4 linked regions of the Homo sapiens genome follow. The protein of the gene in region 1 interacts with the protein of each later gene in a pairwise test. Each region holds a gene or a part of one and is shown on either strand. Other genes may lie near its edges. The genes, in order: CFAP68, PROP1, PEF1 and PLSCR4.

What was found.
Region 2: the proteins of CFAP68 (region 1) and PROP1 interact in binary tests that used the Homo sapiens proteins (3 or more experiments, as listed by UniProt).
Region 3: the proteins of CFAP68 (region 1) and PEF1 interact in binary tests that used the Homo sapiens proteins (3 or more experiments, as listed by UniProt).
Region 4: the proteins of CFAP68 (region 1) and PLSCR4 interact in binary tests that used the Homo sapiens proteins (3 or more experiments, as listed by UniProt).

What each region holds. Positions count from the first base shown.
Region 1 is NC_000011.10:111,882,150-111,887,095, forward strand, and holds the end of CFAP68 (cilia- and flagella-associated protein 68), read left to right. Parts: intron 1-218; coding exon 219-449; intron 450-986; coding exon 987-1,053; intron 1,054-1,621; coding exon 1,622-1,731; 3' UTR 1,732-3,826; downstream 3,827-4,946. UniProt on the Homo sapiens protein: Microtubule inner protein (MIP) part of the dynein-decorated doublet microtubules (DMTs) in cilia axoneme, which is required for motile cilia beating.
Region 2 is NC_000005.10:177,993,243-178,001,511, reverse strand, and holds the start of PROP1 (homeobox protein prophet of Pit-1), read left to right. Parts: upstream 1-5,269; 5' UTR 5,270-5,578; coding exon 5,579-5,687; intron 5,688-7,173; coding exon 7,174-7,406; intron 7,407-8,269. UniProt on the Homo sapiens protein: Possibly involved in the ontogenesis of pituitary gonadotropes, as well as somatotropes, lactotropes and caudomedial thyrotropes.
Region 3 is NC_000001.11:31,634,375-31,642,385, reverse strand, and holds part of PEF1 (peflin), read left to right. Parts: exon of another isoform or gene 1-777; coding exon of another isoform or gene 778-786; intron 787-6,863; coding exon 6,864-7,164; intron 7,165-7,442; coding exon of another isoform or gene 7,443-7,540; exon of another isoform or gene 7,541-7,720; intron 7,721-7,893; exon of another isoform or gene 7,894-8,011. UniProt on the Homo sapiens protein: Calcium-binding protein that acts as an adapter that bridges unrelated proteins or stabilizes weak protein-protein complexes in response to calcium.
Region 4 is NC_000003.12:146,240,748-146,248,758, reverse strand, and holds part of PLSCR4 (phospholipid scramblase 4), read left to right. Parts: intron 1-8,011. UniProt on the Homo sapiens protein: Catalyzes metal ion-induced ATP-independent rapid bidirectional and non-specific movement of phospholipids (lipid scrambling or lipid flip-flop) between the inner and outer leaflet of the plasma membrane and participates in the redistribution of phospholipids between membrane leaflets.

The sequences.
Region 1 (4,946 bases):
GTGGATTTAATCCATGTAGTCACCCACTGTTGCTGATTGAAAGAATGGATCAAAGGGTCCCAGGACTTAGAGAAGAAGAAACAGAACCATAACATAGCCTGGATCATTAGTACGGTGTGCTTGTGTTATACCTGGCTATGTAAAACAAGGGCAGGAAAAGATGCTTTTTCTCTTCTCTGGTTTATGCAATAAGCTTTTCTATTCTTGTCTTTTCCCAGAGACAGAACCTCGCCTGTTTCCTCACAAACCCACACTGTGGCAGCCTTGTTAATGCAGATGGCCATGGTGAAGTGTGGACAGATTGGAATAATATGTCCAAGTTTTTCCAGTATGGATGGCGATGCACCACTAATGAGAATACCTATTCAAACCGTACCCTGATGGGCAACTGGAACCAGGAAAGATATGACCTGAGGAATATCGTGCAGCCCAAACCCTTGCCTTCCCAGGTAATCTAACTTTGTCTTTTTTGTTTGTTTGTTTCCTTCTGTTGGCAAAAGAAATGTAGTGGCCATTTGAAATGCAGGGATGTAATAACTTCTGGTGCAGTGATCTCTCAGTTTTCAGTGAAGTGGTTGGGGCAGAGGAACAGTCCGCAGCTGAACCACCTATGCTACTTTACTGTCAAGTTGAATATTTTATTATCTGTAAGGTTTCAAAAGGAAGGGCAGTCCTCTTTTTCTCTTACTTCTGTTTGGACTTTATCTCTTAGTCTACAGAAATTTATAATGTCTTCTGACTTAGACTAGCTTTTCCCCTGGTCCTTGCCTATCTAGACTTGTCATTTATCTGAGTCTTGCACTTAAATCGCTCCTAAACAAACAAACGTACAAAACATGTGAAAGTTAGAAGGATATAGACTAACACCATAGAACTCAGTCCATCTAAAATATGACAGTCCGTGAGAATTCATGTCATATTGATCTTTATTTCCTGATGTTAGCTGTAGACTTCCAGATTCTTAATCTGTTAATTTTTCTTTCCAGTTTGGACACTACTTTGAAACAACATATGATACAAGCTACAACAACAAAATGCCACTTTCAACACATAGTACGTGGACTGTTTTTTCAAATTCTTACATTTTCAGAACCTAACTCAGTGACCGGCACATAGAAGGAACTCAAATAAAAGTAAACTGAATAGGTGAATAAGTGAGGCTGGGCGCAGTGGCTCACACCTGTAACCCCAGCACTTTGTGAGGCTGAGGCAGGCAGATCACTTGAGGTCAGGAGTTTGAGACCAGCCTGGCCAGCGTGGTGAAACCCCATCTCTACTAAAAAAAATACAAAAATTAGCTGGGCTTGGTGGCGCATGCCTGTAGTCCCAGCTACTCAGGAGGCTGAGGCAGGAGAATCACCTGAACCCGAGAGGTGGAGGTTTCAGTGAGCAGAAATCAAGCCACTGCACTCCTGCCTGGGTGACAGAGTGAGACTCTATCTCAAAAAAAAAAAAGAAAAAAAAGGTGAATAACTACATGAATGAGTAAACAGGATTTTTTCTTCAATTTTAACAGGACTTACTGTCTATTCCCTAGAAATAAGAGCAAGATCAGTTACTAAAACTCCTTAGTGTTGACTGTTTTCATTTGTCTTTCCTTCCTTTTTTTTTCTTCCCTCAGGATTTAAGCGAGAGCCTCACTGGTTCCCAGGACATCAACCTGAACTGGATCCTCCCCGATACAAATGCACAGAAAAGTCAACTTACATGAATAGCTATTCAAAGCCTTAAATTGGGCATCACTCAGGATGTGTATAAGATCTTAATATTGACTAGTTTCACATCCAGGTTTCTAAGAAATGATAAGATACTTCACTTTTCCAGAGTGAAATGTAGGAGGGAGCACATTCTAAGTACAGCTAAAAATTTAGCTCACTGTAACACAGTTTCACTCTCTGAATAAATAAAGCAAAAAACACAGTAAATATTCTTTATCCCTTTTTTTGTTGTTGTTTTAACCAAGATTTAAATGTCAAATTTAATACAGCAACTCAGTTCTACATTTGGGGTGTTGTAGAAGGGCCTTAAAAAGAATTATTTTAGGCCAGGCACGGTGGCTCATGCCTGTAATCCCAGCACTTTGGGAGGCCGAGGCAGGTGGATCACGTGAGGTCAGGAGTTCGAGACCAGCCTGACCAACATGGTGAAACACTGTCTCTACTAAAAACACAAAAATTAGCTGAGCATGGTGGCTCACGCCTGTAATCCCAGCTACTCAGGAGGCTGAGGCAGGGGAATCGCTTGAACCTGAGAAGTGGAGGTTGTGGTGAGCTGAGATCATGCCACTGCACTTTAGCCTGGGTGACAGAGCGAGACTCTGTCTCAAAAAAAAAAAAAAAAAAAGAATTATTTCTCTGAAGTCTACAACCACTGTGGTCTTCCCTTCCTTCTGTCGTAGCAAGACCTCAGAATCTAGCATAACTTAGGCTAGGTTTGGCTAGATGCTTTCTGGGTATAAGCCAGAGTCGTATAGTGCAACTTTGCTGTGACCTTAGTGAACATCCCCTCTTGAGGACTACAAAAACAAACGTAACTTTTTAAAATTATTATGGAGAATTTTACGTAAAACAAAAGTAGACAGGCTAGTCTAATGAACTCCCATGTATCATTACCCAGCATCAACTATTTATGACTAATCTTACCTACTTCTACTTTGTCTTATTGAATTAATTTTGGAGCAGATCTTAGAAATAGAATTTAATCTATAAAAATCTTGGTGGGCTGGGTGCGGTGGCTCATGCCTGTAATCCCAGCACTTTGGGAGGCTGAGGTGGGTGGATCACCTGAGGTCAGGAGTCCAAGACCAGCCTGGCCAATGTGGTGAAACTCCATCTCTTCTAAAAATACAAAAATTAGCTGGTCTTGGTGGCGGGCGCCTGTAATCCCAGCTACTTGGGAGGCTGAGGCAGGAGAATTGCTTGAACCCAGGAAGCAGAGGTTGCAGTGAGCTGAGACGGTGCCATTGCTCTCCAGCCTGGGCGACAAGAGCGAAACTCCGTCTCAAAAAAAAAAAAGAAAAGAAAAAGAAAAAAAAAATCTTGGTATACTGGCTGGGCACAGTGGCTCACACCTAATCCCAGCACTTTGGGAGGCTGAGGCAGGAGGATAGCTTGAGGCTGGGAGTTCAAAACCAGCCTGGGCAACATAGCAAGACCCCATCTCTACCAAAAAAAATTTTTTTAAAGATTTCAGTATATTTCTCAAAAAGATAAGGACTGTCAATTGTCTACTCCCCCCCAACAAAGGTCACTAAGGAAACCTGTTGACTAAACAAAGCTCATTAAACCTATTGTAGTGTAGCAAAGGAGACCATCAACTTGACACAGAGTCTTGGTAATGATTCAAAGGGAGGATGTTAGAGTAAGGTATTTATAAGGATTTGAGATAAGGGTCCAACTGGTTTAAAATGAGTCAAAATAGGGAACTAGTAGAGACTGAGAAAGGGTTGTGAATAGCTTAGGTTTGGTAAACTTAGGAAATCAACAGTCTTAATTTTAATATGGTTAAACTGATTAGTATTTCCTATTTTTTTATCTACTGTGTAAGAAGACACTATAATATATGGGCATTACTGAGAGATACTGCCCATATGTTGTCCTCGTAAGCAAGGAGATATTTTTTATCTCCCATATATTACCTCTCAAACCTTTGTTACTTTAGTTTCGAGATATAGATCCAGAATTTATGTTGTTACTCAGTAGTGAGGAAGTTTCTTTTTTTTTTCTAAATGGCTATCAAGTTGTCCCACCATTAGTTATTGAAAAGACCATAATTTTTTCACTCCTATTCAATGCCATTTTTATTGTAAATAAACTATGTACATGTAGGTCTGTTTCTGGGCTACTATGTTCTATTAGTTTAATTGTCATTCCTTGTATTATCTTAGTTATGATGCCTTAATTGCACCATCTTAATTATGATAATTTTATTACATTATTATTATTTTATATCTTAATACCTAATAGATCAAATGCTTTCGTCTTGTTTTCTTCAAGAATATTAGCTATGTTTGAACTTTTGCATTTCCATATAAAATTTAGAATCAGCTTGCTCCATAAAATGACACTGTTAGGATATTGATTGAAACGGTATTGCATCATTAGGTCAGTTTTAGAATTTGAGTTCTCATTAATTCTAATAATTTATTTGTATGTTCTTACAATACAAATATTGTTTTATAGACACATATTTTAAGTTTACATATCGTATGTCTTATTCTATTTCCTATGTATCTAGCACATTTTTAAAATTGAGGTAAAATATACATAACATGGCTGGGCGCAGTGGCTCATGCCTGTACTCCCAACACTTTGGGAGGCCGAGGCTGGCGGATCACTTGAGGTCACGAGTTTGAGAGCAGTCTGGCCAATGTGGTGAAACTTTGTCTCTACTAAAAATACAAAAATTAGCTGGGCGTGGTGGCAGGCACCTGTAATCCCAGCTACTCCAGAGGCTGAGGCAGGAGAATCTCTTGAACCCAGGAGGCAGAGGTTGTAGTGAGTCAGTATCATGCTATTGCACTCCAGCCTGGGCGACAGAGCGAGACTGTCTCAAAAAAAAAAACCTATACATATATATATATATATATATATATATATATATATATATATATATATATGTATGTATATATATACACACACATAACATAAAATTTACCATTTTAGCTTTTTTGTTGTTGTTGTTCATAGAGACAGGGTTTCACCATATTGCCCAGGCTGGACTCAAACTCCTGACTTCAAGCAGTCCACCTGCCTCAGCCTCCCAAAGTGCTGGGATTACAAGCATAAGCCACCATGTGTGGCCCATTATAGCTATTTTTAAGTGTGTAATTTAGTGGCATTAAGTATTTTCACAATGTTGTGCAATGTTCACAATGTTGTGCAACCATCACCACTATCAATTTCCAGAACTTTCTCATCATCCCGAACTAAAACTCTGTACCTATA
Region 2 (8,269 bases), on another chromosome or scaffold:
AAGTCAGGAGTTTGAGACTAGCCTGGCCAACATGGTGAAACCCTGTCTTTACTAAAAATACAAAAATTAGCCGGGTCTGGTGGCAGGCACCTGTAGTCCCAGCTACTCAGGAGGCTGAGGGAGGCAAATCACTTGAACCCAGGAGGCAGAAGTTGCAGTGAGCCCAGACTGTGCCACTGCACTCTAGCCTGGGCAACAGACTGAGACCCTATCTCAAAAAAAAAAAAAAAAAAAAAGAATAAGTGTTGAGTTTTATCAAATGCTAGATAATCATATGGTTTTTTATTGGTTGATGTGATGAATTATTTACTATGAGCCTATTCTTATTCTCTTCTTTTTGCTAAGGTGTAAACCTTAGCCTTTTAGGACGTCATTCTACTCGTATGTCTTATATATTTCCTTTTGTTCAATATACTAGTATCTTTACATTGTCTTTTCTGAACAGATGAGCTAAACAAAAACTTGAATTCCTTTCTTTGATAGAGTCTTCATAGGGCATTCTTCATACCTGCTCAAACACAGAAGGAAAGTTCTAGTATTGTGCTCATTTTGCGAATGAGGAAGGTAAGGCTTAAAGTGATGAAATTGCTTGCTGTGGTCACACAGCAAGCAAGGGCTGGTTCTAGAATTTGAATTCAGACAACCCGACTTGCAGGATGTTCTTCTAGGATCAGAGTATCCTTAAGGGACACTCTTCCCACAGAATTTCTTTACTATTCAATAACTTTTCTGCAGCATCACAGTGGACTAGATAGGGAGGGTGTCCGGATGGGGGTGGAGTTTCCTGAGGTGTCAGAGGCACTGGAAGGTCTAAGTAACTTTGGATGGCTAAAATGCTCTAGGAATCAGAGTCACTTGGTACAGTAAGATATTCCTCTGGGCATTGTAGTGAGACTGTGTCTGTACAAAAACATACAAAAATTAGCTGGATATGGTGGTGCGCACCTGTAGTCCCAGCCATTCAGGAGGCTGAGGTGAAAGAATCACTTGAGTCCAGGAGTTTGAGGCTGCAGTGTGTTATGATGACACCACTGCACTCCAGCCTGGGTGACAGGGCAAGGCCCTGTCTCAAAAAAGGTGTATACATATATGTATGTGCGTATACACACACACACACACGTAATCCTCTAGGGTCAAATAACCTAGAAGGTAGGGTGTTCATATGCTCAAAGTAAGCTAGGATTTATGGTGTTCAGGGGAATCAGTGTGTCCTCATAGAGATCTGATCCACTGGAGACTCAGGGCATCCTTGTATGGTCAGAGTAGTGTCCTGTGGGTTTGCCTTGTTTCTGGATGATAAGCATGCCCATGTAGGTTCCAAGTGTATTGTAGGATTTTTTTTTTGACAGAGTCTCGCTCTGTTGCCCAGGCTGGAGTGCAGTGAGTGGCGTGATCTCGGCTCACTGCAATCTCCGCCTCCCAGGTTCAAGCGATTCTCCAGCCTCAGCCTCCTGAATAGTTGGGACTACAGGCACGTGCCACTGTGCCTGGCTAATGTTTTTGTATTTTTAGTAGAGACAGGGTTTCACCATGTTGGCCAGGCTAGTCTTGAACTCCTGATCTCAAGCTATCTGCCTGCCTCAGCCTCCCAAAGTGCTGGGATTACAGGCGTGAGCCACCGTGCCCGGCATCTTGTAGGATTTTAAAAGGTCAGAGGACCCTGGGGAACAGGGTGTTAAGAGGATCCAAAGAGATCACATAGGATCAGATGAGATCTTAATGGTGAAAGTCAGAGAGTCTGGGAGACTTGGAGCATCTTGGGAAGGCAGGGGTATTGGGAAGGCAGGGGTATTGGAGAGACAGGGCGTCAGGGCAGGCAGGTGTTCTGGGCCTACAGGCATTTTCATCATGTCAGAACACTTGAAGTATCCTTACAACATCACCAGCTTCGAGGTCAGACTGTCCTGGAAGATCACACCACTTGCATGGAGTTAGGATGTTTTGGAGGTTGGTCTGGCTGCGTGATTCAGAGGCTCCTGGATGTTCTGGGAGTCCAGAGCTGTGAAGGTTTTCAGGTAGGTCAGCATATACTTTTGGTATTTGAATGCGGGAGATCAAGGTTTTCTGGAGCTCAGGTGGTCCTTGAAGGTTTGGGTAGACTTGAATGGATCTGTCATGGAGTAGAGTGCCAAGGTATTCTTGTGCAATCAAAGCATTTTCAGGAAATCAGAGGGTCCTGGATGAGCACAGTGTGCTAGGCAGGGGTGAGAGTATGGCAGAGTGAAGGTGTCCTGGCAGTTCTGGGATGTGTATTCTACAGACGGGTGAGAGTATGGCAGAGTGAAGGTGTCCTGGCAGTTCTGGGATGTGTATTCTACAGACGGGTGAGAGTATGGCAGAGTGAAGGTGTCCTGGCAGTTCTGGGATGTGTATTCTACAGACGGGTGAGAGTATGGCAGAGTGAAGGTGTCCTGGCAGTTCTGGGATGTGTATTCTACAGAGGGGTGAGAGTATGGCAGAAGTGAAGGTGTCCTGGCAGTTCTGGGATGTGTATTCTACAGAGGGGTGAGAGTATGGCAGAGTGGAGGTGTCCTGGCAGTTCTGGGATGTGTATTCTACAGAGGGGTGAGAGTATGGCAGAATGAAGGTGTCCTGGCAGTTCTGGGATGTGTATTCTACAGAGGGGTGAGAGTATGGCAGAAGTGAAGATGTCCTGGCAGTTCTGGGAATGTGTATTCTACAGAGGGGTGACAGTATGGCAGAGTGAAGGTGTCCTGGCAGTTCTGGGATGTGTATTCTACAGAGGGGTGAGAGTATGGTAGAGGTGAAGATGTTCCGGTAGTTCTGGGAATGTGTATTCTACAGAGGGTCTTGCAGGGAATAGTTGCCTTGAGAGGACAGAATCTCAAGAGTTAGAATAATCACCTTTTGGATTCAGGGGGTCCTAGTGTGTTGAAGCTGTGCTGGGCTGTCTGTGTATTGGGAGAGTGGGAGAGTGACAGTGACTAGGGTGCCTACTGACAACTCTAGGGCTGAGACAACCAGAGTACACTGGAAGGTTGGAGAGCCCTGGCATTAAGACATCCCCTGTGTCAAAGGCATGTTGGATGGTCAGAGTGCTTTGGGAGACCTGGATATGTCTTTTCTTCGTCAAAATATCCTATGGATCAGGCTAGTGTGGTCAGGGTATTTCCTGGGTTGGGGTTGGCATGTTGAGTGGTTTTTCAGTGTCAACAGCACTTTGCAAGATTCAAGCAAATTGGGGGCTCTGAACAGGCAGGAAGACAAGATGCCCTTGACGGTCTAGATTCTGTAAGGTCAGGAATTCCTTAAAAGGTTAGAATTTCCCAAATCTCACCATGTCCTCATGGTCTGGGTGACTTAGAGGGTCACAGAGTGATTGTGAGCCCAAGATGTTGTGCTGAGTGTAAGGTACAGAGGTCAGAGCCTCTTGGAGGGTCTGTGTGTCCTGGAGAGTGAATGCATCCTCAGTGCCCTCAGCATTCAAGGACCTGACAGGGCCAGAATGGGTACCCCAGGCAGCAGGATGCATTGTAATTCAGTGTTCTCTTGTGAGTCCAAGCTGACTGCATGTCACTGGGTCTTGCTAGGTTAGGACTGCCATGGGGTTCAGGGTGCTCCAGGAGGTCAAAGTGTGTCCTAGGGTAGGGGAGAAGGGTTAAAATTAGAGCAGTGTTTCCCAATTTTACGTTGCTATGGACTAAACGTTTGTGTCCCTCCAAAATTTCTACGTTGAAGTCCTAACACCCAACGTGATGGTATTTGAAGGTGGGGATTTGGGGAGGTGATTAGGTTTAGATGAGCTCATGAGGGTGAGGCCCCATGATGGGATTAGTGTCCTTACAAGCAGAGGAAAAGAAACCAGAGCTGGTTCTTTCTCCACCATATGAAGGCACCGAGAGAAGGCAGCCACCTGCAAGCCAGGAAGAGAGCCCTCACAGGGGAGCCAAATAGGCGGACCCCTTGATCTTAGACTTCCCAGCCTCCAGAACTGTGAGCAATAGAAGTCTATTGTTTAAACCACACAGTCTATGCTATTTTGTCATGGCAGCCCCAGCTGACTAAGACCCACGTGCACTCGGTTCTCCTGGAGATCTTGATACAAGGCAGATTGTGACTCAGTAGAATGGAGGTGGGGCCCAGGGATCTGCATTTCCAACATGCTCCCATTGCTGGTGCTGCTGCTGCTGCTGATCCATGGACCACACGGTAAGCATCGAAATCCTAAAGGATTCTGATTTCCTGTCTTGAATCACCAGCGTGTTTTTAAAGGACCTGTATGACGGCATGACCCTGGGAATCAGACTGTCCTGTGGGTACAGTGTGTTCCAGGGGGTCCATGTGTTCTCACTGGGTCAGTGTATCCTGAGAAGCAGAGGTGAAGTGTTCTGGGTGTCAGCGTGTCCCAGGGGATCCTAAGGTCCTGGGCTGTTGCATCATCCTTAAACTGTCAGAGTGTCCTGGGGATGTCAGAATGTACTTCCCAGGTCTAAGTAACCTCAAGGGGCAGAGTACTGTGGGACCAGGCTGTCCTGACTGCTCAGAGATTCCCGGTGTCAGGATTTTCTTGAAGAATCAGAATGTAGTATGTCACGGGAATCTCAGTCTCTTTCCAAGTCCTGGAGTCTGGAGTGGGTTTGGGGGTCAGGATGCAGCTGGAATGCAGATGTTCAGGTCAGGGTTTTCGGAGAGTCTGGGTGACCTTGGAAGGTCATGGTGTCCTGGGGGTTCTGGGTGAATGAGGAAGTGGTGTTTGAGGGAGGAAATCAGAAAGTACTTGAGAGCTAAGGTGTCCTGGAGGCCCATTCTCCGGAGTGGGTTCAGGTTGGCCTGAGCACTGGCTGGTGTGTTCTGAACTATCAGGGTATCTGAGAGGGGCCAGCATGCACTTGTGACTTCTCCTTTTTTAGTTTCCTGGAAGCAGATCCTTGAGTGTCACCCCCATGCTGAGACGCCAGGCAGGCTCCACTCCTGGGTCCCTTTCCCCTGCTCTTCGTTCCTCTCCCCACAGTGGGGTTGTGAGGAGGGGGTCTCGGGAGGAATGCATTTTCTCCTCCTCCCCCTGCCTGCTCCCAGGAGGGGATTTAACAGGACAAAAGAATCCGGTCCTCTGGGAATACGAGCCCTTGGCCCCAGTCCCTGGACCCTCCGACAGAACACCTTCCCTCATCCGGCTTGTGATCCTCCCTGAGCAAGGGGGCTCTGGTGACCGTGTAGTGATTGGATGGGCCCACAGGGGCGAGGAGGAGGTCACTCCTCCAAGACTCAGGGGTGGGATGGGAAAGTAGGCAGCTGACAGAAGGGAGCAGCATCCCGGTGGGGAGAAGGGCCAGGCAGAGAAAAGTAGTCAGAAACAGAGCAACAGGTGAGGCTGAGGCAGGAGATTGAGCTGACACTCAAGCCAAGGAAGGGGGAATTAGGAAACAATTAGAAAAAAAGTAAAGACAGTGAAAAAGTCAGAGACAGCTGCCTGCACCTACACACACATTCAGAGACAGAGTCCCAGAGGGTGGCATACACAGAGGGAGAAGGGGAGGGAACAGGTGTGGAGAGGAGCTGCGGAAGCAGAGAAATCTCAAGTCAGAGATTCAGGGACACTTGGTCCCCGTGGCGAGCCATGGAAGCAGAAAGGAGGCGCCAGGCTGAGAAGCCAAAGAAGGGGCGAGTCGGCAGCAACCTGTTGCCTGAGAGACACCCGGCCACTGGGACCCCGACCACCACGGTGGGTGAGTGACCGTCCCGGTGTGCGTGGGTCCCTGAGGAGGCAGCGGGTGTGAGGCTGAAAGCATAGGCTCCATGAAGAAGGTTAGGAGGAGAAATTAAAACCCGAATCCTATCATGTTAAAACTGTGGGAACCTTTGAAAGTAAAAGGGACTGGAGCACCCCTTGGCTTTACAGACTGGGGAACTGAGCCCTTGGCAGGAGGGGGCGGCTGAACAGCTCACATTGCAGTGGGGATGTGAGACAGTTACCTCTGTCCCCTCACTCCTGACCTCAGAGTTGGTTAGCCCAAGCCACTGCCTTCTCTGATGAAGGGAGCTGGAGGGGCCAGGGCTTTGGGTCCAGGGCGGGAGGGCGGGCTCCGTGTGTGTGTCCCCCATGGTGGACAGTGAGCTCTAGGAGGGTCCACGCCCTTGGGCCCCATGGGGATGGTGCCTCGGCTCCAGACATCTTTTCTTGGTGTGCGCCTTCCAGGTGTGTCCTTTCCCTCCCCGTTCTCTCCTCCCCAACAGCTCTCAGACTAATTAGTGTGGGGGCTTAGGGAGCCTGTGGGGAGGAAGGCAAGCCTTTCCCACGAGCTCAAGTTCCTGCAGCCTGGTGGCTGGGCCAGGGCAGGGGTAGGGAGGAGATGAAAAGTAAGTAGGGGAGGGTGTGTCTGAGCGGAAGAGGGGGGTGCCCATCTTCCCAGGTGAGGGGTGCGGGAGATGGCAGCAGTCTGAAGAAGGCACAGGTTGAACAGGAGCCTCGCCAGCAGGGGACAAGCACTAGGGTCTTCCGTAGACAGCTGGGACGATTGTTAGGGTGCAGGTGCACACAGCAGACCCACAGGGTGAGCCCCAGGTGGTCGTGTGTGTCCAGAAGGGTGAACGTACATGGAGGGGTATGTGTCTGGCAGTGCAATAGGAAGTGGGCAGACAGTAGAGTTGCCAGGTAGACAGTGCATGAGTGCCAGGGCCAGGAATGAGTCTGAGGGTGTGCCCTGTGTAGACAGCACAGCCTGGTGTCAGAGACTCAGAGGCAACCAGGGGCCGAGGCTGAGCAGGGTGCAGGAACCAGGCTATGGCAGCTAAAAGATTCCCGGTGGGGCAGGGCTGGGTGCGGTGGCTCAGGCCTATAATCCCAGCACTTTGAGAGGCTGACATGGGAGGACTGCTTGAGGCCAGGAGTTTGAGACCAGCCTGGGCAAGATAGCAAGACCCCATCTCTAATTTTTTATTTTTTTAATTAGCTGGGTATGTTGGTGTGCACCTGTAGTCCCAGCTACTCAGGAGGCTAAGGCAGTAGGATCACTGGAGCCCAGGGGTTCGAGGCTGCAGTGAGCTGTGATCACACCACTGCACTCCAGTCTGGGAGACAGAGCAAGACTCTGTCTCAAAAAAAGACTGGAGCAGCACAGGACGCACTGAGCGCAATCCCGGGACAGGCACATGTGGTCCAGCACCGAGGAGCGTCCTCCTCAGAAGCCGCCCCTCCCTTCTCTCCGTTCTCAGACTCGAGTGCTCCACCCTGCAGAAGGCTCCCTGGTGCAGGAGGGGGGAGATCAAGGTTCTCCCCGCAAGGAGGACAGAGGGGCCGCCCGCACTCCCGGCGCCGCCACCGCACCACCTTCAGCCCAGTGCAGTTGGAACAGCTGGAGTCAGCCTTTGGGAGGAACCAGTACCCCGACATCTGGGCCCGAGAGAGTCTTGCCCGGGACACTGGCCTCAGTGAGGCCCGAATCCAGGTGATGCTCCAGGATCCTCCTCTCTCAGGAAAGAAATGCAGATTTCTTTGGTGCTATCATAGAATGTTGGGCATTATAACCCTAACCTAAATGGTCACCAGACACAGGCCTCATCTCACCACCAGCATCAGAGCAACTGCATTGAGAATATCATATCACTTGAGTTTAACCCTAGCTATAAGCTAATCTAACTTGAATTTCAACACCTACCCTCAATATTTAATAGTGATGCCAATTCCGGCTGGGCACAATAGCTCACACCTGTAATCCCAGCACTTTGGGAGGCCAAGCTGGATGGATCACCTGAGGTTAAGAGTTCGAGACCAGCCTGGTTAACATGGTGAAACCCCATCTCTGCTAAAAATACAAAAAATTAGCCAGGCATAGTGGCAGGTGCCTATAATTAATCCCAGCTACTCCGGAGGCTGAGGCAGGAGAATCACTTGAACCCGGGAGGTGGAGGTTGCAGTGAGCCAAGATCATGCCACTGCACTCCAGCCTGGGCAACAAGAACAAAACTTTGTCTCAAAAAAAAAAAAATAGTGATGCCAATTCCAACAGAAGTTCAATCCTAACTGTCCATATTCTTACAGAAGCTTGTCCCTAACCATAGCCTTGAAACTCAATGAGCCAAATGCTCCCTCAATCCTAACCCCAGGGTTGGTTAGCCTTAAGTGTAAACCCTACCCTAAATTCAAGCTTGTCTATAGCAATTACATTTATCTACAGTCTTAATCGTTAAACTTAACCCTAGGGGAAATTTCCCATTCTCTGGGGAAGGGAAATGTCATTGTCACCATATTTATCTCCTTGGTGGAAGCTGACACTTCTTACTTGCCCCGAGTGTTAGAAAAGGGCACATG
Region 3 (8,011 bases), on another chromosome or scaffold:
TGGATTTCAGTGCTTAAGAGCTTAGTTTTTGAGGCCAGAGAGAGTTGATTTCAAATCCCTGCTTTGTCACTCCCTTGCAGAAGTTTGTTGCAAAAGTCTGAGACTCAGTTTTCCCTTTTTTGAAAAAAATTTTTTATTTATTTGTTTATTTTTAAGACAGAGTCTTGCTCTGTCGCCCAGGCTGGAGTGCAATGGCACAATCTTGGCTCACTGCAACCTCCGTCTCCCGGGTTCAAGCAGTTCTCCTGCCTCAGCCTCCCAAGTAGCTGGAATTACAGGCGCACGCCACCACACCTGGCTAATTTTTTGTATTTTTAGTAGAGACGGGGTTTCGCCATGTTGGCCAGGCTGGTCTCAAACTCCTAACCTCAGGTGATCCACCTGCCTCAGCCTCCCACAGTGTTGGGATTACAGGCGTGAGCCACCACGCCTGGACTAGTTTTCCCTTCTTTAGAATGGGGTCATAATAGTATCTACCTCAGAATTACTCTAAAGATTAAATGAGAAAATCCACGTAAAGTGCTAGGTATGGTGTTGGGCATGTAGAATACTCCAAGTGGAGGAGTAATGCAGTTATGCAGATTGAAGAGGCAATGTGATAAGTATTCAATGGGAGTAAGTGTAAGGTACAGCACGGGAGAGTGAGATACCTAACTCAGTCTAGGGGTGCATTTTTAAAAGAGGTGATATTTAAGCCAACAACTGAATCACTGGTAGAAATTAGCTGAGTGAAGAAAGGAATGCTATTCCAGCAGAGGAAATAGCTGCACAAAGCCCATGAAGCAGGTAAGACAGCCTAGTATTTTGGAGGAACTTTAAGAAGTTCAGTGTAGTTGTAGTGATGTGGGGGAAAGGGGTAGGAAATAAGACTAGAAAGGTAAGCAAGGGCCAGATCCCAAAGGGCCTTGTATGCCTTTTTGGGGAGTGTGACTTCATCCTAAGAGTAGTGAGGGAGCCAGTGAAGTGTTTTGTCCCATTTGTGCTTTGGAGTGCTTACTGTGGGGTGCTGTGAGAATGGATTGAAGCAGGAGAGACAGGAGGCAGGGATACCGGTTTTGACGCTATTGAGGTAATCTAGGCTAAAGAGAACTGTGACCTGGTAGAGGAGATTTGAGAAGCACTTGGGAGGTAGATTTGAGAAAACTTGGCCTTAGGTTTGGATGATTAAGCAGAACGGAGCTCCATTCACTGAGATGAGAACACAGGGAGGCATGGGTTTGGAGGGAAGGTCCAGTAGGCTGCTGGATATGTGGGTCTGTAGCTCAGGAGTGATGAAGCTGGAAAGATTTGAAAGTGTGAGCACAGAGGTAATTGAAGTCTGGGGATGGTTCTTGGCTCATTGTTTATTGGTTGCGTGCTTCTCTCCTATTTCAAGTGGCTCTGCTGGTGAATGCTTGAACTGTTCCTCTTGTCTTCCTGTGATTGTTTAACCCCTTAGTTTGGGCTTCCCACCTCCTCCTGTGCACTTGAAGGGTAGCTCTGGGGTACAAACTTGTCTTTGCAATGCTCCCTCCTCCATTCGTCATCAGGGCTCAGCTTGGAACAGCCGTTGATACCTTTAAGCTTCACAGGGGTCTTGAGGTTAGAAGACTTGAGTCCTCAGAACTGGAAAGAAAAAAAAAATACCGGACTTTCTGAGGTGGTTATTTGGGAGGAGGTAAGCTCCCTACTGCTTGCGCAAGTGCAGGTAGAGATTCCAGGTGGTTCTGCAGAGATTCCATTATTAACTGAGAGGTTGAACTGAAGAGTCTTTGGGGTGTCTTCCAAAATGTGGCTTGGCTCTCAAAGTGACTCTAGGTGCTGGGACGAAAAAGAATGAGATTTTTCTAAGAGTCCCTGATTTCTGGGCTTGAAGGCTCTGAGAGATCACCCAATCCAGCCTTCCCCTCTACCTCTGTCCACAGTAGAAATTCATTATATTTGACAAAGACATTTAGCACAGTCCCTCACACAGACACATGCTAGGCACTCACTCATTTATTGAGTGAACAAACAGAAGGGGGTAGTGTAGAGTCATGCAGACCCTGACTTGAATCCCAACTTGCCCATTCTAGCTGCATGATCTCAGGCATGTTATTAAACTCTCTGCCCCTTAATTTTCTCATCTGCAAAATGGAGATGACACTGTTTACCTCACAGGACTGAGGATTAGTGAGAGCTGGTTGAACTGGAAGCACCTAGCAGAGCCTCAGTAAATGTTTGTTGCCCCCAGTCCCCCCAGGGCATCAGATGTAGCTTATTTGCAATCAGCCAGAGCCCTAGAGATAGTTTTTCTGTGTTGCTTCAGAAGCTGCAGTTACTGAACTCTTCCTGTCCTTCCCCTCCACCTGCCTTCACAATCCTGTTTATCAGTATGAAATAACTCTTGGAAAAACTCTAAAAAGGGCTGGGAGCATGGAGTAGTGTAAAAGAACGTGGAGTCAGGGATGCTGTTTTTCATTTCTGGTTCAGACCTTTGCTAACAACTCAGTGACACTGGGTGACCCTCTGTGAGGTGGGGACCACCTCATCTTCTTCCCCAAACTTCCTGTGCAGCCTGCATTCTGTCTCAGTTGGCTCCACCTCCTTCATCTTGTGCAAAAGCTAGAAACCCGAGTCATTCTGAACACTTTCCTCACTCCTCCTCCATCTCTTTCCTAATCTAATTAGTCACCAAGTCATGTCTGGTCTATCTCTGAAATAGCTTCAGAATCCATTCCGTTCTCTTCATCCCCAAGTGTGCTGTCTGGTTCATGCCCTGCCTGCCCAGCACCTGGGCTACTGCCTCCCTCACTGGCTCATCCTCCACACCGCCGCTGGTTACTTCTCTAAACAAGGTTCTCATCACGTTCCTCTCCTATTGGAAACCCTTCTATAGTGCTCTGTTTTCTCCGGCATAAAGCCCCAACAAAACTCTTTAGAGTGGTGTTCATTTGTCCAAATATTTGTGGAGGCTTGCAGGTGCCAGGCACTGTGCTGGGCCCTGGGGTGCCATGATGAGTGAGGCGCAGTGTCTGCCCCTGGGGAGCTTACTGTTGGGTGGGGGAGATGCTAGACAGAAACTACTCTTAGACACTGATACCTCACGGCTAACTGAAATGCAGGGGGAGAGGTGCTTGGTCAACGAGTGTATAGAGGGCCTGCCTTTCTGGGTTCACACTGCATTCTTGGCTCTGCGGTTTAACTCATTCCCTGAATGCACTATGCTCACTCTTAAGTCTGTGCGTTTGTCTTTCTTCTCTCTTCTGTCTGGAGTGTCCTTCCCTGCCTGCCTTTTGGAAAATGTCTATGCATCCTTCAAGGACCATTTCCAATATCACTGCCACTTCCTCCAGGAAGCTTTCCTTGACCCACTTCATACATTGTTCATTTATTCATTCTGCAAACAGCACAAATTCCTCCATCTAAGCTTCCTTGATAGCACATAAGTAGATTTTTCTGATGGCACTGATCAGATTGTATCACAATTATCTGTGGGCCCCTTAAGGGCAGGACTTCATTTACTTGTGTCCTCAGATCTACTACAGAGCCTAGTACAATATTGTCACTCTGAAAATGCGTGCTGAATGAAGTCCTTTAACAGCTCCGTGGCTTAGTTTCTTCATCTGTAAAAGAGGGCAACTAACATCTTCCTTTTTTCTGTTAGGAGGCCATTGGCAAGATTCTGCCTGTAGTGTTTGTGTTTGTGAAAGTACTTTGTAAACTACAGAGGAGGTCTTCAAATGCAGGACAGAAAGGAAAGGGTTTAATTGCTGCCAGACTACAATAGCCAGAAGGGCAGGAGACCTGCCTGGCAGCACCTGCTTTGTTGGCCTGGGGATGTTTCCTAGGTGGTTTATAGGTGGTTTCCTAGGTGGGTTTTCCTAGGTGCCAGGTGCGGTTTATAGCTTTGCTCACAGGGCTTATAGTGGGGCAGCTACTTCTGGCTTCGTGTCTGGCCTGTTCTTTGGGTGTGCCCAGATTCTGCAGAGTTCCCACTCCCTTTCCATCCTATGCTGGAATCCTGAGCCCTATTGCTTAATGAAGGAGTGTTGTAGCAGGAGGCAGGGGGAGTCATTGGGTGCAAGGGAGTGGTCCAGCCTTGTCTCTTCCTCCAGCTCACAGCATTACTTGGGCAAGTCCCTCCCTCCCTCCCCCATCTGTAAAATGGGGGTTAGGTTAAGTGACTTGTCTTCTGGGTATTTCTCTTGTCACACCTCTCCAACCCCTTGGGAATCCTGTTCGTTCTCTAAGTCCTAGCTCAAATGCCACTCTCATGGAAACACTCCCTGATTTTACCCTCCTTCCTTTGCAGTCCTATGGCACATGACTTATGTCTCCATTTCAAACACCTGTTTTCCTTATGCTGTTTTGTTAGACGTTACACAGTGTCTACATGTTAAGTCTTGTTAACTGTGAGTGCCTTCAGATTGCTTCACTCTCCTTTATACCCCACCCCGCACAGTTCACCTGGCCCAGGACTTTGCTGATAACAGTAATTAATATAGCAATAGCAGCTATGACTTACTGATCATTTGCTTTATGCCAGGCACTGTTGTAAAAACTATTTTTCTTATGTGAGTGGTTTTCAGACTGTCTTTTCAGTCACTGTGAGGGGTTTTCAGAGCCCCCTCAGAATGTAGCAAGGGAGGGGGTTCCATATTGTAGGGGCTCTGGAGCTCCCACCTTACTTCAGCCAGAGCAACTTTCTTGTATTTGTTTTATTTATTTTATCAAAGGATTCTTTCTTTCTCTCTCTCTTTTTTTTTTTTTTTTTTTTTTTTGGAGACAGGGTCTCCCTCTGTTACTCAGGCTGGAGTGTTGTGGCACAATCACAGCTCACTGCAGCCTCCAACTTAGGCTCAAGTGATCCTTCCGCTTTAGCCTCCCGAGTAGCAGGGACTACATGTGTACCACCATGCCCGGCTGATTTTTAAAAATTTTTTGTAGAGGTGGGATCTTACTATGTTGCCCAGGTTGGTTATCAAAGGATTCTTTAGCTAAAAATTAAACTGACAGAATTTTGCTGCATTTATTTTTTATAATCTGCAGAACAGTCCAGTGAGGAAGGAATTGTTCTATTTGTGAGGAAGCAGGCTCAGAGAGATGAAGCCACGGGCCCACAGTCATGAACTTAGCTGATGGGAGCAGAGTTTTAAATTGAGATCTGTGTGAGCCATTCTTGTCTGTGAAGGAGTCTTGCTAGTAGCTATGACAGCTTCTAGGGTAGAAAAGCTCCCAAGGATTGCTGAGTGGGTGACAGGGCCTGCTTCCTGCCCTCCCCACAAAAAAACCTCATGAATTTGGCCTTAGCCTTAAGAGTAATTATTTCAAGCTATCAAACACAATAAAAAGAGAAAGCCCAGGCTCTCAGTGGCTTGGCCACTGGTGCACTTACAGGTTGATCTAGAACGTATCTAGATGGTGCCGTTCTCGGAGCTGGGCCTAGCTGCTGTCTGTGCCCTTGAGCTCAGCTTGTCTGCAGATGTGTTGGGGCTGTGCTCTGCTGGGTCCTGTGCTAGCCATTTAGGGAGATGGAGCGGAACACTCCGAGGGCTACTGGTGTGGGAAGATGGATGAGAGAGGGAATGCCCCCATGTATGCTCTAATGCACAAATGCCCTGGACATAGAGCCAAGAGACCCAGGTTCTGGTCCCAGCCCCTCCACACAGCCTGTGTGTGACTTTCCTGGACTTGAGTCTTGTCCTCTGTAGGAGGCTATTATTAATAGTGTTTATTGAGTGCTTAATTTGTGTCAGGCCCAATGTCAAAGGGCTTCACATAGCTGGCCTCATTTCATTCACAAACTAACCTGAGAGGTAGCTATTATTATTCCCATTTTATAGCAGAAGATGTTGAGGCTTAGAGAGGATAAGTCAGTCCAGTTAGTAAATGGCAGAACCTGAACTTGAACTCTTGAACTGGTTGTTTTTTGTTTGTTTGTTTGTTTTGAGATCGGATCTTACTCTGTCACCCAGGCTGGAGTACAGTTGTGTGATCATGGCTCACTGTAGCCTCGACCTCCCCAGGCTCAGGTGATCCTCCCACCTTAGCCTCCTGAGTCATTGGGACTATAGGTGTGCGCCACCACACCTGGCTAATTTTTGTATTTTTTAAATAGAGATGTAGTTTTTCTATGTTGCCCAGGTTTTTAGTAGAGATGTTGTTTTTCTGTGTTGCCCAGGCTGGTCTCTAACTCCTGGGCTCAAGCAGTCTGCCCGCCTCAGACTTCCAAAGTGCTGTGATTACACAGCTGTGAGCCACCACGCCTAGCTGTTGAACTGGCCTTTGAAAGCATTGTATCGTATTGCCTTAGGAATAGGGTCTCCCCTGCCTGCCTCACAGAGTTGTGAGTGAGGATAGGGAAATGTTTTTACATCAGGGTAAGGAAGACATGCTGTGGATGAATCCATGCTATAGCTATGTCATTTGTGACTGATGAGGGTCAGGGGTGTGTGTTAGAGACTGCGTTTGCCCCATGAGTTCTGCAGATAGAGATGGGAGTACCACAGGATGGGCATTTGGAATTCTGTTTGATTCATTTGCCTATTCATTCATACAGGAAATATTTACCAAGTATCCATTCTACACTGGGAGCTGGGGATAAAGTGACAAACCAGACAGGATCCTAGCCCTTGTGGAGCCCCTTGATGTGCAGGAAAGGAGAGTTAGGAAAGGAGGATTTCAACCCTGACTCTGCAGGTCATTGGCGGGGTGACTTTGGGTAACTCGTTGCTCCTCTGGAAGCCTCAGTTTGCCCATCTGAGCAGTGAGATCATAATTCCAACCCTACCTATAGGATCAGTTGAAAGGATGGTGGTGGAAGTGCTTTATGGTTGTAAAGTGCCATACTCTGCCTAGTTTCTGGCCTCATCATTCTGACTGATATCTTGCTCTTCCTGCAGGGCTGCCCAGGAGCTGCAGGACAAGCACCAGGAGCCCCTCCGGGTAGCTACTACCCTGGACCCCCCAATAGTGGAGGGCAGTATGGTAGTGGGCTACCCCCTGGTGGTGGTTATGGGGGTCCTGCCCCTGGAGGGCCTTATGGACCACCAGCTGGTGGAGGGCCCTATGGACACCCCAATCCTGGGATGTTCCCCTCTGGAACTCCAGGAGGACCATATGGCGGTGCAGCTCCCGGGGGCCCCTATGGTCAGCCACCTCCAAGTTCCTACGGTGCCCAGCAGCCTGGGCTTTATGGACAGGGTAAGTAGTAATCTTGGACTCCGGGTACCTCTGACGTGGTTCTGAGTTATCCATGGCCAGCCTTTGTCCTTCCTGTGGGTGTGCAGGCAGCCTGGTCTCTGGCACCTTAGCATCTTGCTTCCAGCTTCAGTGTGTATCCTCAAAATGATAAGTTTGTCAGCTAGTTTTGTTGCAAGCATTTATTTGTATTGCTTGCTCATGCTTACTTTCTTTTGCTTACATGTCAGCAGCTGTTAGCTGGCTGTTGAGTTTCTGTTCCCTGTGTCTTTTTCATTCAGGGATACATGCTGAAGGAGCAGCTCCTGTTTGGGATATGTTATCTTTGTGGCAGAGAGAAGGAGCAGGAGAGCTAGCAAGAATGCACAATGCCTCTTAAAGCTTCTCTGAAGTACTGTATGTCTTGCCCACTTGCATTCTTTTGGCCAGAGCACCCCCTGATCAAGACTGACATCAGTAGGATGGGAAAGGATGCCCCTCTGCAAGCCACCAGGCAGTGGGAGAGGATGTACAATGCTCTTATAGGGAAGGGGAGATTAGCAAGTAATCTAATAATAGATTATTGAACTGGCCTTTTAAACCATTGTACCATATTAGTACAATGTCTGTGGGTGTGCAGACTGTGTCTCCTGGCTAGAGATTATTAGCCAGGAGACGATAATGTAGCCTACCATGGGGAGAAACTCAGTTTAAATATCCGTTTCTCTGTGAAAATATCTCAGAAGACACACATTCCAGGCTCTTTGCTGAGGATTTTATTTTGCTGTTATCTCATTTAATCATCACAACAATTCTGGGGAAATGGGTTCATTTTAGAAATGTGAAAATCATTACTCAGAAAATTGTACAT
Region 4 (8,011 bases), on another chromosome or scaffold:
CCAGCAAAACATGCTCCCAAGTGTACAAATAAAAATCTCTGTCAAAGATGTTTAAAGTAGGATTGTTTACAATGTAGAAAACATGGATACAGCTCTGTAGCCATTGATTGGGAATTGGTTACATAATGTATGGTATATTCAAAGGTGGAATAATATACAGTTTAAAACATTGTAGCTCTAAATGTTCTAACTTGGAAATATGTCCAAAACATAAAGTTAAAACACAAAATGAAACAACAAGTTGAAACACTGTGTGTGTGTGTGTGTGTCTGTGTGTGTGTAGTGTAGTAATTATATTTTTGTAAATAATTTGGAATATAGGCTGAATTATATTGTGAGTAGTGATGTTTTACACACAGCCGAATTATATTATTATGAGTAGTGATGTTGTTTTACACATTTCTATAATGTATGCGTGTGTATAAGGAAAAATTGATAGTGATAGTAATTTATACAGAACATTGCCTTCTTGAATATATTAGCTGTCATTTACTACAGAAGAAATATATTTCACAAAACCTTTCATATTGTCTCATTTTTTTTCTTTTATAAGTGTCCTCTTTCAGCTGCTTCCTTTAAAATCCCCTTCCTTAATATTGATGTTTATGATGTTTATTGCAAGAACAGCAGTGAAGAATTTTGCTTGAGGGATTTCACAACCAGTTAACTTTTATAAACAAAAAATACAGCAATGTTCATACTCATATGTTCACCAGCATTGTGCTAAAATTCATTTTTATAGTACTCATTCTTCAGGATGAAAGAGATAGATATGCTAGTCCTTAAAAAGAAAAACATCTAAAGTTGGAAAAAAATTGTTTTTAATTGCATGGTAAGGCTGGGTGGCGGTAGCTCACGCCCGTTATCACAGTACTTTGAGAGGCAGGGGTGGGCAGATTGTTTTAGCCCAGGAGTTTGAGAGCAGCCTGGGAAACATGGCGATACCCCACCTCTAAAAAAATTTAAAAATTAGCCAGGCATGGTGGCACCCACCTGTAGTGCCAGCTGCTCAGGAGGCTGAGGTAGGACAATTGATTGAGCCTGGGAGGTCAAGGCTGCAGTGAGCCATTATCATGCCACTGCACTCCAGCATGGGCAACAGAAAGAGACCCTGCCTCAAAAATAAAACTGCATGACAAAAATGCAGTGAAGACAAATGATAAGTTTTGAAAAGATAATTTTAATATAAAATTTTAATACCTTTCATATAAAGAAGACAAATGAAAAGCTAACAAAAATGAACAAATGACAAACAGGCAGTTCACAGAAATAGAGTTGCAAATTGCTTTCAAACAAATAATAAAAGTGGCTCAGCCTCCTCATTATGAGATATATGGAAAATAAAACCAATTTTTTTTTTTTATATATCAGATTGACTACTACAAAAATGTTGATAAAATACTGTATTAGGAATGTAACTTTTTGTCTGGGGTCTAAATTGATTCAAATTCTTTAGAGTGCAGTTTGATAGTATCTTTAAAAATGTACAAAACTTTGATCCATCAGTTCTGCTTCCAATAATTTAATGCACAGATCCACAGGAAGAAAATATTTTTTTCAGCATTTTTGGTAATAGCCTAAATTTGGAAACGATTTAACTTGTTGTCATTAGGCAGCCAGTTAAATACATTATGTTGCAGCCATTAAAAAGAATGAGGTTATATGGACTGAAATGTAATTAACATCAAGACATTTTAATAAATGAAAAGAAAAAGACACAGAAAAGTATATAGATGATTGCCATTTTATAAAAACTGTGTGTATTAGTTTATATATGCTTAGAAAATCTATTGGAGGAAAAAAAATCTAATGTCTGTGGTTGCCTTTTCAAATGGGAAATGGGAATTGGAGTAGGTGGGATTTTTTTGTATAAATGTATTGTGTAAATGTATGCACTGCCGACTCCTTGAATTATATTTGTGTTTGTTTGCACATAACATCTGTTTTTTAAAAGTCTGTTTTCATAAATGTAAAGTTTCTTATCAAAGTGACTTAACTGTATGCAACATGACATCTTGTTTTACTACAATTTTAAATACTAAAAGACTAGCTGTAAAATGACACAATGAGGCGTTCTTGGTAATCATAGTTGGCATGGTAATGTTTCCTTAATGTCTTATATAAACATCATGAGAATATTGTTCTGATATTTTTCTACTCTAAATAACAAAAACATTTCCCTTTTGAAAGCTAAAAAGGAGACACCTGATATTCTCTTTAAACAATTTGAACTAAATTAATATATTTAATAAAGGTTATGTATGGACTGTGGCTATCAATTTGCTTTCATTTAATCTTATCTTTTATTTTATATTAAAGCCAAATAGCTAACCTCCAAGATCCTTCACACTTGCTAAAAAGAATGAAATATTCTACCATACACTTTTTCTTTTGAAGGAGTCATGATGTTAATAAAATAATAAATATATTGATATAGGTTATAAAAACAACACAATAAAAATCTTAGGTTTTGCCCTTGTAATTTGTTGAACATTAATCACTCCCTAAGTTTCTTCTAGAATTGATTTTATGCAAAGATACAATTAAATACATATATGTTAACATGTAATTATAATGAAGATACTGTGTATCTATGGGACATTCCTGCTGCAGCATATTTTATCAACATGGACCTAGGTTTATCTTTTGTGCAAGCCTGGAATTCGTTTCTCTAATTTCAGCCCATGTGACAGAAACTTACTAAGTTTACAAGATGTCTACAGAAATGACTGAATCCTTCAGTCATTGGACTTTAATCCACTCATATTGAGCCCACTGAACTATCCAGTTCCCTATAGCCAAGAAACCCATAAAAGTAATTAACACAGTCCACCATAGGAGCCAAGAAATTTGGCTTAAAGTCTATAAAGAGGATTGTACTTGGAAAGGTGTGCATAATATTTCCTCTTTGATGAACATGCAGGTCTTTTTAGTTACAGATTCACTACAAGAGAGTACATTGTCAGGTTTTAAAAATTATTTTAAAAACTCAGTTTATATAATTTATTATACATTTATTGTAGAAAATTTAAAGAGGAAATGTTTATATCTTAGCATGTTTCCTCCAGTTTCCATATTTTTTAAAAACATTGCTATCATTATAATTATCCAGATTATATGTTTAACATTTGAATGTAAACATTTAATGATTTTTACAAAACTGTTACTATATTTTTAAAGGAAAATTATTTTATCATAATGTTTCATGATAATGTGTTTACTTAACAATTGTGCTTGATATTTATGTAGTTTACAATCACTACTATTTTCGTTTTGCATTCCTTCTGTGAAAATGAGAATGTATCACTTAAAAATATTATATGGCATATTTTGGATTTATTTTGAATTTGGTATAGAGGAAATTTACTTGGGTTTACAAATGAGATTTGAGAAAAAATAGATATGTCTTATATTGGTAAACTGAACATTTGATTGAATGTATTATGATTCCTACAGCAGATAGGTTTTTATCTGAATGGGGTAAAATTTCATAGATCTGTAACTGAGGGGGTGTGTGTTGGGGCCAGGAGGGGATATATTAAAATCATCTGGGAAATGGCTTCCATTTTCTTTCCTTATCCATAGAAGCAATGATCCTTTTAAGCTTTATCATGAGACTGCAACAATTCGGTAACATCTTCATGCTTCACTTCTAACTCTTAGTTCTCTTGCTATTCTCTCACATCTGCAGGTACTTCATCCAATGAAGTCTTGAACCACGCAAAATCATCCAGGAGGGTTGGAATCAACTTCTTCCAAGCTCCTGTTAATATTTATATTTTGACTTCCTCCCATGAATAACAAAAGTTCTTAGTGGTATCTAAAATGGTGAATCCTTTTTAGAAAGTTTTCAATTTACGTTGCCTAGATTCATCAGAGGAATCTAGGCCTAGCTTTTGGCCTGTCTTTGCTTTCAGCATGCCTTCCTCATTAAGCTTAATCTTTTCCAGCTTTTTGACTTAAAGTGAGAGATGCACGAACCTTCTTTTCACTTGAATATTTAGAGGCATTTGTAGGCTTATTAATTGGCCTAATTTCAATATTGTTTTGTCTCAGGGAATAGGGAGGTCCTAGAATAAGGGGAGAGATGGGAGAATAGTTGCTCTGTGGAGCAGTCACAACAACACTTACTAAGTTCACCATCTTATATAGGCATGGTTCATGGGGTCCCAAAACAATTATAATAGTAACATCAAAGATCACTGATCATAGATCACCATAACAGATTGTTATGAAAAAGTCTGAAATATTGTGAGAATTACCAAAATTTGACAAAGAGACAAACTGAGAAGTTGCTGTTCTGCAAAATGGCACTGATAGACTCCTTGATACAAGGATGCCACAAACCCTCAATTTGTTTAAAAAAATGGAGTATCTGTGAATCACAGTATAGCAAAGCACAGTAAAACAAGGCATGCATGTACATAATGAGGTATCTTGAGAATGGGACCCAAGTAAACATGAAATTCATGTTCCATTATGTTTTAAACATATAGCCTGAAGATAATTTTATACAATATTTTTGATAATGTTGTGTATGAAACGTTTACGTACGTTGAACCATCAGAAAGCAAAGGTATCAGTATCTCAATCACCCATGTGGACAATCTGTGGTTATTTGACGTCACCATCATTCCTGACTCTAAATTCATTATGCTACTGATAAGTAATCATTTTCTTACATTACTCACAAATAAGTGCTTAACAGTAAAAAATAGGATGTATCATTAGTACAGTGAAAAGAGAATGCGTTCAGGGTAACTAAGCAGCACAGTAGTATCTCCAGAATGCCTGTGTCGGAAAGCCACCAATAAGCAATGGCAGGCTTTCATTCTTTACCTACAATGCTGTATTTTGATTACAAGGTTATCATTCACTGAATTTTATTATTTTAAGTGAGAAGAAATATCAGAAGTAGCCAAGTGACCAGCAAGTGTTTTCTCTACAAATGAGGAAGCATTCTGATGGATGACTTTTCAGAATGTTTCCTCTGGAGTCCGCTGTCTCATTAACAATGGTTTTTGTCTTAGAAGTCTCTGTTGATTTTACAGACTGACACAATTTCTTATTCTGTGATGAATGAATGCTCTTAGAGTCCTTCAGTAAACCCATCACATATTTTCACCATGTCATCTATAGGCACTTTGCAGTTTTAACAGTGTCCTCATCATCTTTCACTTGTGACATCATGTTGGTGCTGAAAGTTTTGGATTTTTGAGCATTTCAGATTTTGGACTTTTGGATTAGGGTTGCTTAGTCTATACAGCATTTTATGTGCCCGAACTCTGCATGAATATTATAATCTTTTCTTAAAGTTAGAGATTGGTTCATCCTTTTTGTTCATTTCTTTGTTTTCAAGAATAAATGACAACACAGTTTTTGTTTTGCTTTCTATTTTTTTGTTTTTCAAGAGTTTTGGAGCATAGTCAGGATCATGATGATAAGAAAGAGATGTATATATGTAACAAACCTGCATGTTGTGCACATGTACCCTAAAACTTAAAGTATAATAAAAAAAAAGATGTATACAGTTGGTAGAGCATATTGTTAGCAGGAGTTTGAGAAGAGGGGTTTCAGTCAATTGAGAGATCCCCATGGAAGAAGCAGGATGAAATACAGATAACAGAACTAATTCTTACAAATTTTTTTTCTGAAAATGGTCCAAGTGTCAATTAGGAACTTTCCAGGTTTGATTTGAAACCCCCACCACAGAATTTGTTTTTCCTCCCTGAGAGATTGATGGGTTACTGTTTTGGGATTAAAGCCTTTGGGGGCTTTCTCTGGTGGAGAAATAGTTCAGACAAAAGGTAGTGGATCCATTAGATGGCTAATATAAAAGTGGACAATGTATTTTCCAGTTGCATGAGTGTTTACCATAAAGGCAGACATCTTGGGGCATAGGGTTCTTTATTTTGGGATCCTCTTGGGCCCTGTAGCCTTTACAACTGTAAAGACATAAACCTGTTTGCCTTTCGTAAGGAATTTTCCCACTGTAGCCATTCTAAGTTACTTTTGCTAAGGTTCTCCCATTCGTCTCGAAAAGCACAGGTTCTGGGTCTCTGGTTTTTATACATGAAGTTGGCTAGAATTCCAGAGGGCGAAGCTCTAGCAACCTTTGACCAGATAAACCCATGATTCTATGTCTTTTATTAACCTTTCCTACCTACTAACTGAGTTGAGTTTATGTCTGACCCAGTCAAATACCTGAGGCCTCCCTACTGGGCCCAGTCCTGTTGTTGGCATGACTTTGAAACCCAGTGTAGATCAAAAATGCTCAAACTCAGCTCAAATCAGAAGTTCATGAAGCTTAGATTCAAAAATCTCACCCATGACCCCAGTTGCTGCGAAAGAGCAGTGAGTACACTGGGCATGCTGGGTACCTTAACTTGGTCACTCAGTGCTCCTGGGATCACTGGAAGTTTGCTTCAAGATCTGACTTCTCATGTGAAACTCTTAAAAGAAAAACTTTAGGCAAATTCAGCAGAGTTTATCTGAGCGAAAAACGATTCATGAATCAGGCAGCCCTCAGAACCAGAAGAGTTTCAGAGAGCTCCACCGAGCAACATGGGCAGGCAGTATTCATAAACAGAGGAAAGAAGTGACGTACATAAATCAGTTGATTGGATCCAGCCTGGTATTTGCTTTATTTGGTCATGGTGTGATGAGGCATTTGCCTTCAACGGACATGGTCTGATCAGTTGACAGCCCGTGATTGGCTGAAGCTCCACTACCATCATTGGCTGAGACTCAGCTACTTGTTACAAGAATACAACCTCAAATCAAGTTGCAGTCTGCTATTTACAGAGGCAGCTTTAGGCCCAATTTAATTTATCAGGTTATGATTTAGATTACGTAGAAATGTGTTGTTTTATTTTTATGTGGTTAGAGAATTTCCTGTTATCTTGCGGTTAGTAATTCCTAGCTCATTACATTATGGTCGGAGAACAAGCTGTATTATTTTAATTTTTTTGTAATATTTTAAGATTTGTTTTATGAGCCAGAATGTGGTCTGTCTGGGTGAATGTTCCGTACGTTGAAAATAATGGTTATTCTAATGCTGTTGGGTGGGTGTCCTACAAATGTCAGTGTTGGTTGATGATGCTGTCTAGTTGTGCCAATATCATTGCTGATTTTTCCTCTGCTTGTTCTTGTAGATTACTAAGAATGGAGTGTAAAAGTCCTCAACTGTAACTGTGGATTTCTCTTTATTTTTTTCAATTTTGCCAGTTTTTCCTTCATGTATTTTGAAGCTCCATTGTTAGGATCAGTCATGCTTAGGATTGCTGTATCTTGTTAAGAAATTGTCTCTTACTTTTAAGTGATAGCCCTTCTTATCTCTGGTAATTTTCTTTGCTCTGAAATCTACTTGTGAGATATTAGTATAACCACTCCAGCTTTCTTTTTCTCTGTAATGACTTTGTTGAGACATAATTCACATACCATAAAATTCACCCATTCAAAGTGTACAGTTGAGTGATTTTTAGTATATTCAGAGTTGTGAAGCTATCACCACAATCTAATGTTAGAATAATTTCATAATTCCAAAAAGAAACCCATGCCCAATAACAGTCATTTCCCATCTTCTTGAAGCCACAAATCTACTTTATGCCTTTATAAACTTGCCTATTCTGGATAGTTCACATCAGTAGAATCATGTACTATATGGTTTTTTTGGTGACTGACTTCTTTCTAGTAGTGTAATGTTTTCAAGGTTCATCCAGGATATAGCATGTATAGCCATACAAAATTACTTTGTATGGCTGAGTCATATTTCATTGTAGGGATATTTAAAAATTGATCAGTTTACCGATTGATGGATATTTGAATTGTTTCTATTTGTTGGCTATTATGTGTAATGCTATTATGAACATGTTTTTGTGAAGGCATTTATTTTCATTTCTCTTAGGTATATACCTAGAAAGAAATTACTAGAGGACATGGTTAACTGTATTAACCATAATGAAACTCTATGTTTAATCTTTTGAGGAACTGCCAGACTGATTTTCAAAGC